Homo sapiens: one gene and its partners. The protein of the gene in region 2 purifies or fractionates together with the protein of the main gene of each other region. This does not show direct contact. Each region holds a gene or a part of one and is shown on either strand. Other genes may lie near its edges.

Region 1 (3,578 bases), on a different chromosome or scaffold from region 2:
GCCAAGGCGGGGAGATCACTTGAGGTCAGGAGTTCACTTGGCCAACATGGTGAAACCCCGTCTCTACTAAAAATACAAAAATTAGCTGGGCATTGTGGCACGTGCCTGTAATCCCAGCTACTCGGGAGGCTGAGGCAGGAGAATTGCTTGAACCCGGGAGGTGGAGGTTGCAGTGAGCTGCCCCAGCATGGGCGACTGAGCAAGACTCCATCTCAATAAATAAATAAAATAAAATAAAATAAAAATAAATAAATTGGAGGATAGAAGCTCAGAGATCTACACAATTGGCCTTCCTTTTTGGCTCTGAAGCAGGCTCCATGGAACATCATTATGAAGCCACTGATCTCGTATAATTCTTTCTATACATACATGCAGAGACAGGGTCTCTCTCTATATATGTATATATATGTACATACAGTTGTATTATGTTAATAGTACATATACATATAAAACACGTACTAAAAATACATAAAAATATACATATAATATATATTTTATATACGAGGAAAAGAAGATCCAGAAGGAAAGCATCAATTAAAATTTATCTAGCATGTATTAAATGCTATGCTAACACTTTAAATACATTTTCTTATTGAGTCCTTTTGTTACTATTATAGAAGGTAATAATCCTGTTTTACAGATGAGAAAACCAGAACCCAGGGAAGTTCTTTAACTTTTGCAAAGTCTGTATTACCCAGGAGGCGGAGGTTGCAGTGAGCCAGGATTGTGCCATTGCACTCCAGGCTGGGCGACAAGAGCGAGACTCCGTTGGCCGGGTGCGGTGGCTCACGCCTGTAATCCCAGCACTTTGGGAGGCCAAGGCGGGCGGATCACGAGGTCAGGAGATCGAGACCATCCTGGCTAACACAGTGAAACCCCGTCTCTACTAAAAAAAAAAAAAAAAAAAAAAATTAGCTGGGCGTGGTGGTGGGTACCTGTTGTCCCAGGTACTCAGGAGGCTGAGGCAGATGAATGGCGTGAACCCAGGAGGTGGAGCTTGCAGTAAGCCAGGATCGCGCCACTGCACCTCCAACCTGGGCACAGAGCAAGACTCCGTCTCAAAAAAAAAAGAGACTCCATAAAAAGAAAAAAAATCCTCATTCTTTAAGACTTAACTCAAATACCTCCTCCCTGAAGCCTTCCATTATCTTTCTTTTTTTAACATCTCTGCTTCAACCTTAGTGAAAGTTTATTACCTTCTCACTATGACTCTCTTTAGCATTTGATATTCCAGAATGATTTTTATTTTGCCTTTTGTTATGATTATTTGGTTTATTCTCTCTCCTAGTAACGTTTACATATTAATAATACAGAGTAGAGACAGTTCCCCATCACCTACGTGATTTTGCAAGGTATGCAAATGTTTATCCAATTAAAGCAAGTCCTTTATACAACTTGATTTGATCCATTCTTAATAGTTCAGACAGGGTGCCATCAATTTATGTAACAAATCATGTCACCATTATGTCACTCACTCAACACATAAGTATCTCTGTGCATAGTTTCTTTTTTTTCTTTTTCTAAGACAGGGTCTCACTCTGTCGCCTAGGCTAGAGTGCGTGGCATGATCACAGCTCACTGCAGCCTTGACTCTTGGGATCAAGCAATCTTCCTATCTCAGCAAGTAGCTGGGATTACAGGCATTAGCCACTGTGCCTGGCTATTTATTTATTTTTAATTTGAGTAGCTGGGATTACAGGTGCCCACCACCTCATCCGGCTAATTTTTTGTATTTGTAGTAGAGATGGGGTTTCACCATGTTGGCCAGGTTGGTCTCAAACTCCTGACCTCAGGTGATTCACCCATCTCGGTCTCCCAAAGTGCTGGGATTACAGGTGTGAGCCACTGTGCCCGGCCTATTTGTTTATTTTTAATTGACAAAAAAGTGTATAGGTTTATCATGTACCTTAAAAATATTGTAGAGATGTAATCCCAGCACTTTGGGAGGCTGAGGAGGGCAGATCACAGGTCAGGAGATCGAGACCATCCTGGCCAACATGGTGAAACCCTGTCTGTGCTAAAATACGAAAAGATTAGCCAGGTATGATGGCACGCGCCTGTAGTCCCAGCTACTCAGGAGGCTGAGGCAGGGGCATCGCTTGAACCCGGGAGGTGGAGGCTGCGGTGAGCTGAGATCGTGCCACTACACTCCAGCCTGGTGACAGAGAGAGACTCCATCTCAAAAAAAAAAAAAAAAAAAAAAATTGTAGAGAAAGCTAATGTTTCCTTTGATGACCACTGCCACCCATCCCAATCCATTGTCTTGCTCCCCAGAGGTGACTGCTTTCTCAAGTATACTTCGGCACTTTTCTCTCTCTCTGTATGTATATATATTTCTGTTTCTATTTCTTGTATTTGCTGTCTGTCCTTTTGCTGGAATGTTATTCCCCTAAATAACTGAATGTCTCACTCCTTCACTTCATTCAGGTCTCTTTTCAAAGAAAACTTCCTTAGAAAGGCCTTCCTTGACTAATCTATCTAGAAGAGCAGTCTCTACCCCTCTACCCCACACACTGCTTTTTCTTCATAGCACTTACCACCCCCTAATATTACATAATGGCTTGCGGTCTTTCTCCTACATTAGCATGTAAGCTCTATAAGGACAAGGACACTTTGGGTTCATTTATTATATCCCCAGTACCTGGAATAGGGCCTGGCACATAGGAGGCATTCAATAAATATTTGTTGAATAAATGAATATATATGTATCTATAAATAATGTATTGTTTTGTTTTGAGACGGAGTCTTGCTCTGTCACCTAGGCTGGAGTGCAGTGGTGCGATGTCGGCTCACTGCAACCTCCACCTCCAGGGTTCATGCGATTCTCCTGCCTCAGCCTCCCGAGCAGCTGGGATTACAGGGGCGTGCCAACACGCCCAGCTAATTTTTGAATTTTTAGTAGAGACAGGGTTTCCCATATTGGCCAGGCTGGTCTTGAACTCCTGACCTCGTGATCCACCCGCCTTGGCCTCCCAAAATGCTGGCATTACAGGTGTGAGCCACTGCGCCCAGCCTGTATAGTATTTTGTATATTTAAAATTTTTATATGTGTAACATCCACACGGTATATATTTTATTCTTTTTCATTTTCATTTTTAATTTTTGTGGGTACATAGTAGGTGTATATATTTATAGGGTATATGAGATGTTTTGATACAGGCATGTAATGTGAAATAAGTACATCATGGAGAATGGGGTATCCATCCTCTCAAGCATTTATCCTTCGAGTTACAAACAATCCAATTACACTCTATGTTAAATGTATAATTAAGTTATCATTGACTATAGTCACCCTGTTGTACTATCAAATAGTAGGTCTTACTCATTCGTTCTATTTTTTTTTTTTTTTGGTACCCATTACTGTACGTATTTATAACTTGCTTTTTTTTTTTTTTTCACTGCATTATGTTTTTGAAATCTATTCATTTAGATCAGTGGTTCCCATTTAGATCAGTGGTTCCCAACCAGGGACGATTTTGCCGCCCAGGTACCTCTGGCAATGTCTGGAGACATTTTTGGTTGTCATGATTGGGGGATGAGGGAGAAGTGCTATTGATATTTACTGGATAGAGGCCAGG
Region 2 (3,578 bases):
CCCACAGGCTGTGGGTTGGACAAGCTTGGTCCAGCTACGCTGCATTTTAAAAAATGCAATAATCAACTACACACAATGAACTAAAACTTCAGTGTAACTGTTAAATAAATTTGTGTCTATAAATCATAACAGCATCGATATATATTTAAGAATGGAGAAGAGGCCAGGTGCAGTGACTCACACCTGTAATCCCAGCAATTTGGGAGGCTGAAGCAGGAGGATTGCTTGAGCCCAGGAATTCAAGACCATCTTCGGCAACGCAGTGAAACCCCCTCTCTACAAAAATTAGCTGAGTGTGGTGGCATGCATCTGTTGTCCCAGCTTTTCTGGCAGCTGAGGTGGGAGAATTGCTGGAGCCTGGAAGGCAGAGGTTGCAGTGAGCTGAGATCATGCCACTGCAGTCCAGCCTGGGTGACAGAGGGAGACCCTCTCTCACACACACAAAAACAATTTTTAAATTTTTGAAAAATAAAAATGGAGAAGAACAAATATGGGGAGACATATATTTATTTAGCATACACCTAGTACTGGGTGTATGTGTGGATTCAGGGACAACTCCCAGTAATTCCTGTGCATGACAAAGCTTCAAAGTCCTGGGAAGTAGGAGGCCTCTGGGAAATCTAGGAAGCCAGGTCAAGAGTGCATGCAGTGGCCGATATTAGAGGTAAAGGGTTGGAAACAGCTCCAGGTAGTGCCTTATCGTTTCAATGTGTAACTTTGCTGCTTTATTACTGAAGTTAAAAATGAAGTGGAGGAAAGGAGGTTGCCAACCCATGAAGATTATGGATCTGAATTATGACTGATAGTGTTGCTGGCAATAGGATTGACAGCAAGTGGAAAAGATGTGAGTGAGGTGCTGAGTCCAGTAAGTAACTCACGCCTACCCCAGGTTGACAGAGGTGATATCCACAGTGGTGATCTGAGACACTGATCATACATGTGTATGGTGTTGCTGATGAAAAGTACCCTTGACATCTGTTTACAACCCCTCACTGATAAACTGAATATATGTCTAGTGTAGCATTGTTGAGAGACAGAGAGAGAGATAGAGAGAGAGAACAACCTAAACGTCAAAGAGTAGGGAAATGGTGAAGAACATAATGAATGGTAACAAATGGTTCATCTCTTTTATGGAATTGGGCAATGATTACAACTGTAGTTGGGGATACAAAAATAAACATAGAAGATTTATTTATTTAATTAAATAAGTGTTTATTGAGTTTCTGTTATATGCCAATCACTATTCTGGGTGCTAGAGATGTGGTGAATAAAACAGATGAAGTGCAATTAACTAGTTGGAGGGTAAGGATGGGAACTGTGTATACAAATAGAGAGTCAAACACATTTCAGGTGGTGATAATTATCACGGAGAATAGTTGAGCATGATCCGGGAGGAAGAGCATAGGAGAAGAGTTACTATTTTGTAAAGGCTCATCGGAGAATACATCTCTCATGAGGTTAGTTTTCAGCTGACATCGAAAGAAAGAGAAGAATGAGGATAAGAAACTGAGAGAGGGTGTTTCCGACAGAAGGAATAGCAAGTATGAAAGGCCATGAGGTAGAGGGGTTGGGTGTGTTCCAGGAATACGGCTGTAGTGAAGTGGGCTAGGAGAGGATGATAAGAACAAAATCAGAGAGGTGGGCTGGGGTGGGTTATGTGAGGTCTTGCAGACCACTGTAAGATTTTGACCCTGAGTGAGATAGGAAGTCATCGGATGGTCTTGAGCGAAGGGTAGGCGAGGGCTGACTTACATTTTCCAAGGATCATTCTTCAGAGCAGACCAGGGTGGCAAATGGTGACTCTGCAGGTTGTGAATATATTTTGAGGGTCGAGCTGACAGCATTTGCCGATGAACTAGATACAAGATGTGAGAGATGGAGAGGACTCCAAATCTTTGGCCCCACTGGAAAGATGGAATTTCCATGAACTGAAATGAGGTGGCTATGGGAAGAGCAAGGAAAATTTGAGGACAATTGCCACTGTATCAAAATATGTTCGTGAAGGCAGCTGACAAAGGACATTCAATGATGCTATCTTTGTTAGGAAGATGGAGCGTGAGGTGATTTATTTTTTTCCCACATTGTTGGTACTGTTTTCATTTTACTTTTATAGTCAAATATAAATACAAATTTAATTTTTTAAAATGAAAACAGTTTACCTAAAAAGAAAAGCCAAAGGATCATGGGGTCCTTCTAGAGCAGTGCTTTCCAAAGTCGATTCCTTGGATCCTGGAGTTTTTAAAAGGCTTTGAGGAGAACATTGAAGTAGGTGAACCCCAGGACCCTCCCACAGCTATTGGTACCTCTTCAACCAGAACAATCCCACTTGTATCTGTTTTAATTATTGGAGTTCCTTCTGAACTTGTTTTCAAAAAAGAAAAGTTCTACTAAAAAAATGAAGGAAGTTTAAAGAGCAAGGCTCTAGATTTAAATCATGTAATACCTTAAAAACTCAGGTTGCCTTATAAAACTTGAAACCCAAATTAAGCATGGAGTGACTCTTCGTTAGAAATTTAAAACTGAATATGAACTTGAGTTAATGACTTCCTTTTCCTGAGAATGCAAAGAGAGTTAGCCTCTCTGCAATATCAATTTCACTTGACCGCATATGACCATGTTGAATTGGGCTCCTTGTTGAATTAAACCTCCTGGTGTCATACAGAAATCAGTGTGGAGTGAACATCACTATGGGTTTTTATATAGAAAAACTGCACTAAAAACGTGGTTAGGAATCATATCTGAAATATATGTTTTTCAAAATCACTCAGTCATTTTCAAGATTTTTTTTCATTCAGAATTATGTTCTAAGAGGGAGAATTTTGCTTGATACTATTTTTAAAGTGTTGAATTTTATTCCCTTTCTTTCTTTCTTTCTTTCTTTTTCTTTCTTTCTTTCTTTCTTTCTTTCTTTCTTTCTTTCTTTCTTTCTTTCTTTCTTTTTCTTTCTGTATTATACTTTAAGTTCTGGGATACACGTGCAGAACATGCAGGTTTGTTACATAGGTATACAAGTGCCACAGTGGTTTGCTGCACCCATCAACCTGTCATCTACATTAAGTGTTTCTCCTAATGCTATTCAGCAACTATGTGCTGATCTTTTCCTTTTAAGCAATATTAAATAGGTAAGTGAGGGAAAAATTATTTTTGCAATTTAGTTGAGACAGGCTTTTCAAATTTGAATGTCTCGTCACAAGGGATAATATTAAGCTGTTTCTAAACTGTTCTTAGGAATGCAATGGATAGGATGTGTAAGATTCATCTAGTGCTGTTAAATAGCTTGTTATCTAATAGGTGAGCATGAGTTTTAAATATTTTACAAACCTAATATTTTAGTAATTCATTGAGGGAAGATACTCCTACTGCAAGAGTCATCATTGATCCACAGACGAAATACAGGTCTACAAACCCTTAACCACGATTCTAAATTCCAAAAAATTTTGAAAACCAAAATATTTTTTAAAATATAACTTGTTCAGTGCCTGTATTGGAACTGGCCTTGAACATATGTAGAAATTCGGTAGGTAGAGACTAAAAAGGTAGAAAAACAGGCATTTTAGGTAGATACTACATCTTAAGAC
Region 3 (3,578 bases), on a different chromosome or scaffold from region 2:
TCCAAGAAAATAACAGGACTTGGACTTGAACATTCTGATTCAGATGAGTAGGCAGGAGAAGACGAAAAAAATGTTTTCTGTAAATCACTATCTTTATCTGAAGCATTAGATGACCTATAGAAACTCCTTTGGGTCCAAGGCTCTGAAATTGATGTTGTGACTGAAGTTTTCACAGAAGGTAGTTCTTTATGTCCCAGGACATTCACTGAGGAAGTTGAGGGTTTAGCCAATGACTTCTGCTGTCCAGAGCTAATGAGAATCTTTAAATCATGGGTTTCTAAATGATGACCAGTAACCGTCTGGGAAGCAGCATCACACTGGCTCCTTAGCACAGTAATGTTCATTCCTATAGGAAAAGAATGAAATGGTGAAATTATTTTTGAACAAAACTTTTTGGAAATTAACTTAAATCCATGGAATAAACTGACTTTAAACATATAATATTTATGTGTATCTTCTAAACTATGTTTAACAGAAAGATTCACCCAAGTAACATTTGAAAGTAAATATACTGTTTATAAAATAATTTCAGTTTACTCTATGTCTAGGGATACCTGGTCTATGGGATGTTTTGCATGCTGTCACGCATGTTAGAAAAATTACCGTGGAGACTCTGCCAGCTAACTCTTCCAAAATTGGAACCTAGGAATGTTCCAGACACTTAATGATGTAACCAGTGCGTGAACAGCACCAACTAAATATGAAAACCTGAAATAAGCAAAACTGAAAACCAGATTACAATGAACTTAAAAATCATAAGGAATTTCCTTAGGTAATCAGAAAAAAAGTTAAAAGGTTTAAATTGAATCAAATCTCAACATAAATTTCAACTGAACAAGCCTGCCTTAAAATTTTCAAAACTGAAAAATTTTAATTCCCTATTTTAGGAAAAAGTCTAATGAAAAACAAACCATCATTGTATGGCTTTGAAGTCTCTTCCTCTTCTAAGTGCTCAAAAGCAGTGACAAAGTCATCCTCTATGGATGACACAGACTGGTTAGTATCATCATCATCTTCATCAGTGGTCTCAAGTTGGTGCTTCTGATGCAAGAATGTGTCCAAGGTGTACCTTATACCAGTAGCATATTTACTTAGGAGACTAAAGATAAAATCAATCCTAAGTCTTGGTGATGTAGGTGACACTCTCATGACACAAAGCATTCCAGAAGGATGACTCTTGGGAAAGATAAAAGATAATAAAAACAATTTTAATTTCAAATACAAAACAACATGAAGTAAAGCCTAGATATAAGACAATCTCAGAGAAAAAAACAAACAAGAAATTCATGCATCCTGAAAAGCTCCTTGGTTTTGTAATGTTTACTTCTTAATTCTTTCTCTACATTTTTCACTTTCCAGTCCTTTTTTCTCCCATCTTCTTTTATCCAGGTATTCAAATTCTACCCAGTCTCCTGAAATGTTATGAAACTTACTATCCATTCCTTTGAGCAATTATGTTTTCCTGTATTACTGTACAGCCCTATGATTTTCCTTAATCATTCACCTATCTCACTAACTATTATAAATTGTTTGGGGGCAGCAACCAAGTTCTATTTTCTTTTATTTTTAATCCCATTTTCCCGTAGTTTCAAGTATGATGCCATCTTCCTTCCTATCACAATTGTTAAAAGTCTACTCCTTTTACTTAAATTTCCCTAGCATTACAACTTACAATGTTTATAGCTTTAAAAATACAAGTAACCAGATTTTCCCCCTCATACTACTTTTTTCAAGTAAATACTGATGAAATTATTTATTCAAAAAACTAGAAATCAAATATAATAGCTTATCACCTCTTATATCCTAGCAAATAAAGCAAATACGAATAAAGAACATAATTAAGGAAATGAAGCAAGCAGTTCTAGTTTTATTGGCAGACCTTATAAAGAACAACATAGCAGTTTTTTTAAAACTAAAATAATCCAAATTTTAAATTTTCTGGTTCAATTGTATATGTCTTATCTCTTAGAATGCAAAGCATTTTCTCTGATGCATTATCAACAAAATCATACTTGGTAAAGAACTAAATGCTGAATATTATAAAACTAACCACCTGTAAGAAATGGTAACATTTTTATTTATAAAGAACACATCAGATGTCCACTTTACATGGAATTTTTTTAAACCAGAAAATGAACTGAAGTACATTCTCTAAAACATATAGCGTAACATTTATATAAATTTGAAATTGGCCATAATAGGGAAAAGTCACTGTAGCTTATACAAAGGTAAAAGTAGTTCAAGAAATCCAGAAATAATAAATTTTCAGAAAAAATTAACATGTACTTGCATACCATCTACGGAACTTCACAGTTAAAAAATATAATTTATAAGATATGACCAAAATTATTATATCCTTCAGGGATGTCAATGCTTCATGAGTTATATTTCTTATGAATCATATTTCCTTGAGATACCATTTAAAAAAAACAAATGTCATCCAAGCATTTAAAAGTTTAATCATCTTTATCAAATATAGTAAAATTTGCCCTAAAAATCTCATTAGAAATTATCTACAAAAGTTACCTGATTTAGAGGATCACTGCTTATATCTAATGGTTTATTTATATTCTTCATACAAATAATTTCATTTTCATTTAGACTGCAGAAGTGGAGTGAATTCAGAATATCTGGAAGTTCCAAAGAAACTGCAGCTAAATCCTGATTTAAAATAATAACAATAAGTAACACTGTAGAGTAACACTTTTGTTAAGGTTCCTATAATGTGGACCCTATCCAAAAATTTTAAGGTCTACTGGCTAGTGAATTTCCTGGTTCATAATAGTTAACATATACAGTTTATTATTCACAGATAATTTTTCAAAAATTCAAAAATAAAATATACTAAAATTATTAAATACTGGCTATCCCCGTAGCCTTTAAAATGTACTGATATCAAGCTATAAAAAAATTGTACAGGGTACCTAACACATCCATGACAATTAAGCATTTAATAGTTTTTAGCAATGTCAACATATAGGTCTTAACTTAACTTTATGAAATTTTTTTCATACAAAATTTTTTGCTAGAGAATGTACATCTTAAAAACTTTTTTTTAAAAACTCTGTACAATATAATCCGTTTTTCTATCTTTCCTCTCCAAGGTATTGTATTAGACTTTAACTGATAATTTTAATGAAGATTAAAGGAAAAGAAAATCGCTTTTATTTCTTCTTCTTGTTTGCCCTTTATACACAAATATTTTACCCAGCTAAAGAATTATTAAAGTCTTTGACCCTTTGTAGAGTACTTTCCTTTATAAACATGGTTTTATCAGTAACTCTTAAAGGAGAAGAAGAACATTAAAGAAATATCTTGGAATACTTCTCTTTCCAGCTATGTATGTTCTCAAGAATATATCCTCTCTTGTTCCTTCTGTCCAAATTATTTCCTTCAAGCAAGGCCACAATCAAAATATACAGCAGTTTTTGCCCATAATCACCTGATATGCATTATTCAGAAAGACCTAAAAATGTTATTTCCTCCTCTATGAGGAGACACTTTACTGCCACAAAAGGAAATATGTAGGAATCACAAATTTTTAAGAAGCAGCACGAGGGAAAAAGAAAAGTATGCCT
Region 4 (4,222 bases), on a different chromosome or scaffold from region 2:
TGCTGGGTGGTGTGGGTTTGGGCTGTTCTCCCTCCTGGCTCAGCACGGGCCCGTCAGCCCAGTGTCCTTTGGGCCTGCCCTTCCCCTAGCATCCCTGGTTGGAAGGGTGTCCTCACAGGGCTGTGGGCGGGCCAGGGCTGGCTGCTGGTTAAATTTAGTGTGGGGGGTGGGGCAGCTGCCCAAGGTCCACCTGCCACCAGGGCTGCCACTTGGACTCCCTTGCCAGGGGGCGGGCAGGGGCTGGCTCTGCCTGGGGCCAGGCCCATGTTAACCTGTGCCCCGGCCTGGGGGCCAGAGGGGCAGGCCTGCGCACGGGGAGGCTGTTGTGGCAGCGGAACAGAGACGTGCACGGTGAGAGGCCTGGGGGCCGGCTGTCCAGGGCTCCCGATGGCTTTTCTCCCAGCCAGCAGGATCAGAGGAGCCAAGGTCCGACTTGGGCCTGGCTGGTTGCCCACAGCCCTGCTCAGAGGGCCGGCTCCCTGACCCCCATGGTTCAGGTTTCGGTGCCCGACGCTGGGGTGGGCCAGCGTGGAGCCTGGCCTTTCAGCTCAGCAGGCCTGTGGAGGTGGGGCTCTGACGGCCTATCCCAGCTCGTTTCCTACTCTCTCCTCCAATCGGGAACAAGAGGGCTGGAGAGCTCAGGTCACCCCTAGCCTCGGGTGTGTCCCAAGGGCAACCCCCAGCTGGTGCCTGGTGAAAGGGCATGACAGCAGCCACGGTGTGAGCTGTCCCAGGGCTCAGGGCTGGACTGCCTGGCTCCAGCCCCCTCCCCCAGCCCCTCGCAGTGCTCATCAGGGACCAAGGTCCAGCTACAGAGCTCTTGCAGCCTCTGGGCCATAGCTGCCAGCTCTGGAGGGTCCAGATGGAACCCAGAGCCTGAACACCCCTCCCCTCCCCCCAGCACCCCCTGGATTCCTGAGGCCTGGCTCAGTTAATAGGAGACAGGTCCGCTGGCCCAAGCAAAGATGCGGGTGCCACGAGGGCCAGGCCTCGGCCAAGCCCTGCTGGGGTAAATCCCAGCAGCCCAGGCTCCAGTCTCGCCTCGGGGGTCCCTCCTTGCCAGCTCTGCCAGCCCCTCAGGGCTGCTGGGCACCCCTTCACCTCCTGAGCACCCCAGGTGCTCAGCCCTCTCCCCCTCCCCCCATGTCTAGTCCCTCAGAGCTGTCCGGACTGACGTCTGTACCTACCCCCCATGTGGGTCTCCTGCTCTCCCTTCGTGGGGACACTAGGCAGGCACTGGGCCTTGCCCCAAGCCCCGCCTGCCACCTCACCCACTGCCTCTGCCTCCCTGGGGCAGAGCTGTTCCCAGACGGGTGGGGCGGGGCCCAACTGTCCCCAGCTCCTTCAGCCCTTTCTGTCCCTCCCAGTGAGGCCAGCTGCGGTGAAGAGGGTGCTCTCTTGCCTGGAGTTCCCTCTGCTACGGCTGCCCCCTCCCAGCCCTGGCCCACTAAGCCAGACCCAGCTGTCGCCATTCCCACTTCTGGTCCTGCCACCTCCTGAGCTGCCTTCCCGCCTGGTCTGGGTAGAGTCATGGCCTCGAGCACAGGTGACCGGAGCCAGGCGGTGAGGCATGGACTGAGGGCGAAGGTGCTGACGCTGGACGGCATGAACCCGCGTGTGCGGAGAGTGGAGTACGCAGTGCGTGGCCCCATAGTGCAGCGAGCCTTGGAGCTGGAGCAGGAGCTGCGCCAGGTATGGCCCAGGGCCCCTCGCTGCCCTCCAGGTCACAATGGGGTGGCCGAGTTGGCCCCAGCCCCACTGGCACATGGGACAAGGGCTGAGGGGTTAGGTAGGGCACAGTCTCCCTGCCTGCTCCCCTCCCCTCCCAGGGTGTGAAGAAGCCTTTCACCGAGGTCATCCGTGCCAACATCGGGGACGCACAGGCTATGGGGCAGAGGCCCATCACCTTCCTGCGCCAGGTGAGGCTCCTGCACTGCCCGGAGCACCCCCCCACCCCCAGCCCATGTGCCCTGGCCTCAGCACTCCGTCTTCCCAGGTCTTGGCCCTCTGTGTTAACCCTGATCTTCTGAGCAGCCCCAACTTCCCTGACGATGCCAAGAAAAGGGCGGAGCGCATCTTGCAGGCGTGTGGGGGCCACAGTCTGGGTGAGAGCCAGGGCCAGGAGGAAGCAGAGGGCCGCCCTGCCACTGGAGGAGGGAAGTCCCTTGGGAGGGCTGAGGAGAACTTCACCTGTACTTCCCATCCTGTCCTGCCCGAGTCCAGGGGCCTACAGCGTCAGCTCCGGCATCCAGCTGATCCGGGAGGACGTGGCGCGGTACATTGAGAGGCGTGACGGAGGCATCCCTGCGGACCCCAACAACGTCTTCCTGTCCACAGGGGCCAGCGATGCCATCGTGGTAGGCTGGGCATGGGCACCAAGACATTCCTGACACTGCAGAGGGGGCGCCCAGGGTGGGGGACAGGTGCGGCCCCAGGCCTCGCCAACCCTGCCTTCCCCTTCCTTTCCGCAGACGGTGCTGAAGCTGCTGGTGGCCGGCGAGGGCCACACACGCACGGGTGTGCTCATCCCCATCCCCCAGTACCCACTCTACTCGGCCACGCTGGCAGAGCTGGGCGCAGTGCAGGTGGATTACTACCTGGACGAGGAGCGTGCCTGGGCGCTGGACGTGGCCGAGCTTCACCGTGCACTGGGCCAGGCGCGTGACCACTGCCGCCCTCGTGCGCTCTGTGTCATCAACCCTGGCAACCCCACCGGTGCGTTCCCCGCCGCCCCGCCCCACTCCCCCCGCGCCCACGTTGCGTTCCCCGCCGCCCCGCCCCACTCCCCCCGCGCCCACGGTGCGTTCCCCGCCGCCCCGCCCCACTCCCCCCGCGCCCACGGTGCGTTCCCCGCCGCCCCGCCCCACTCCCCCCGCGCCCACGGTGCGTTCCCCGCCGCCCCGCCCCACTCCCTCCGCGCCCACGGTGCGTTCCCCGCCGCCCCGCCCCACTCCTCCCGCACCCACGTGCGCCCTGGCCCAGGCAGTGCCGGGTCCGCTGGACCCCGGCTGCCCAGCGGAGGGCAGTGCGCCCCCTTGGCTCACCCAGCACTGCTGCCTCCCCGGCACCCCAGGGCAGGTGCAGACCCGCGAGTGCATCGAGGCCGTGATCCGCTTCGCCTTCGAAGAGCGGCTCTTTCTGCTGGCGGACGAGGTGCGCGGCGCGGGGGAGCGGGAAGCCGGGCAACAGTCCGCCCCCGTGACGCCTTGCGCCCTTCCAGGTGTACCAGGACAACGTGTACGCCGCGGGTTCGCAGTTCCACTCATTCAAGAAGGTGCTCATGGAGATGGGGCCGCCCTACGCCGGGCAGCAGGAGCTTGCCTCCTTCCACTCCACCTCCAAGGGCTACATGGGCGAGTGCGTGCGTACGAGGCGGGTGGGGGCTCGCGGGCCATGGCCAGGCCCTCCTCGCCCGATGGGCCACCCCCTCCTCCGCACCTGACCTGGCCGTGCGCAGGTGCGGGTTCCGCGGCGGCTATGTGGAGGTGGTGAACATGGACGCTGCAGTGCAGCAGCAGATGCTGAAGCTGATGAGTGTGCGGCTGTGCCCGCCGGTGCCAGGACAGGCCCTGCTGGACCTGGTGGTCAGCCCGCCCGCGCCCACCGACCCCTCCTTTGCGCAGTTCCAGGCTGTGAGTTGGGGGCAGGAGGGGGTCCAGGTGACCTAATCAGGGGTGGGGGATGCCGAGTGCCGTGCCCTGATGGGCCCTCCCTCCGCGGCCACAGGAGAAGCAGGCAGTGCTGGCAGAGCTGGCGGCCAAGGCCAAGCTCACCGAGCAGGTCTTCAATGAGGCTCCTGGCATCAGCTGCAACCCAGTGCAGGGCGCCATGTACTCCTTCCCGCGCGTGCAGCTGCCCCCGCGGGCGGTGGAGCGCGCTCAGGTCAGGCGGGGGCGGGGCCTGCGGGGTGGGCAGGGGGGGCCGGGCATCCCTCTCTGACGGCTCTCCGTCCACAGGAGCTGGGCCTGGCCCCCGATATGTTCTTCTGCCTGCGCCTCCTGGAGGAGACCGGCATCTGCGTGGTGCCAGGGAGCGGCTTTGGGCAGCGGGAAGGCACCTACCACTTCCGGTGAGGCCTGGCCCTCACTCCCTGTCCCGCCACCCTGGCCCTTCACTCACTGTCAACTCCTTTCAGGATGACCATTCTGCCCCCCTTGGAGAAACTGCGGCTGCTGCTGGAGAAGCTGAGCAGGTTCCATGCCAAGTTCACCCTCGAGTACTC

The links.
Region 1: the proteins of PLD1 (region 2) and ECD purify together in Homo sapiens (co-immunoprecipitation; one large-scale study listed by IntAct). This does not show direct contact.
Region 3: the proteins of PLD1 (region 2) and AKAP11 purify together in Homo sapiens (affinity purification with mass spectrometry; one large-scale study listed by BioGRID and IntAct). This does not show direct contact.
Region 4: the proteins of PLD1 (region 2) and GPT purify together in Homo sapiens (affinity purification with mass spectrometry; one large-scale study listed by BioGRID and IntAct). This does not show direct contact.

The regions. Positions count from the first base shown.
Region 1 is NC_000010.11:73,140,452-73,144,029, forward strand, and holds part of ECD (protein ecdysoneless homolog), read right to left. Parts: intron 1,035-3,578; coding exon of another isoform or gene 936-1,034; intron 1-935. UniProt on the Homo sapiens protein: Regulator of p53/TP53 stability and function. Inhibits MDM2-mediated degradation of p53/TP53 possibly by cooperating in part with TXNIP. May be involved transcriptional regulation. In vitro has intrinsic transactivation activity enhanced by EP300.
Region 2 is NC_000003.12:171,681,470-171,685,047, reverse strand, and holds part of PLD1 (phospholipase D1), read left to right. Parts: intron 1-3,578. UniProt on the Homo sapiens protein: Function as phospholipase selective for phosphatidylcholine. Implicated as a critical step in numerous cellular pathways, including signal transduction, membrane trafficking, and the regulation of mitosis.
Region 3 is NC_000013.11:42,296,131-42,299,708, reverse strand, and holds part of AKAP11 (A-kinase anchor protein 11), read right to left. Parts: intron 2,662-3,578; coding exon 2,527-2,661; intron 1,177-2,526; coding exon 912-1,176; intron 347-911; coding exon 1-346. UniProt on the Homo sapiens protein: Binds to type II regulatory subunits of protein kinase A and anchors/targets them.
Region 4 is NC_000008.11:144,502,775-144,506,996, forward strand, and holds the start of GPT (alanine aminotransferase 1), read left to right. Parts: upstream 1-1,365; 5' UTR 1,366-1,530; coding exon 1,531-1,692; intron 1,693-1,829; coding exon 1,830-1,919; intron 1,920-1,996; coding exon 1,997-2,105; intron 2,106-2,190; exon of another isoform or gene 2,191-2,223; coding exon 2,224-2,357; exon of another isoform or gene 2,358-2,392; intron 2,393-2,471; coding exon 2,472-2,715; intron 2,716-3,073; coding exon 3,074-3,153; intron 3,154-3,220; coding exon 3,221-3,357; intron 3,358-3,457; coding exon 3,458-3,632; intron 3,633-3,726; coding exon 3,727-3,882; intron 3,883-3,956; coding exon 3,957-4,069; intron 4,070-4,135; coding exon 4,136-4,222. UniProt on the Homo sapiens protein: Catalyzes the reversible transamination between alanine and 2-oxoglutarate to form pyruvate and glutamate. Participates in cellular nitrogen metabolism and also in liver gluconeogenesis starting with precursors transported from skeletal muscles.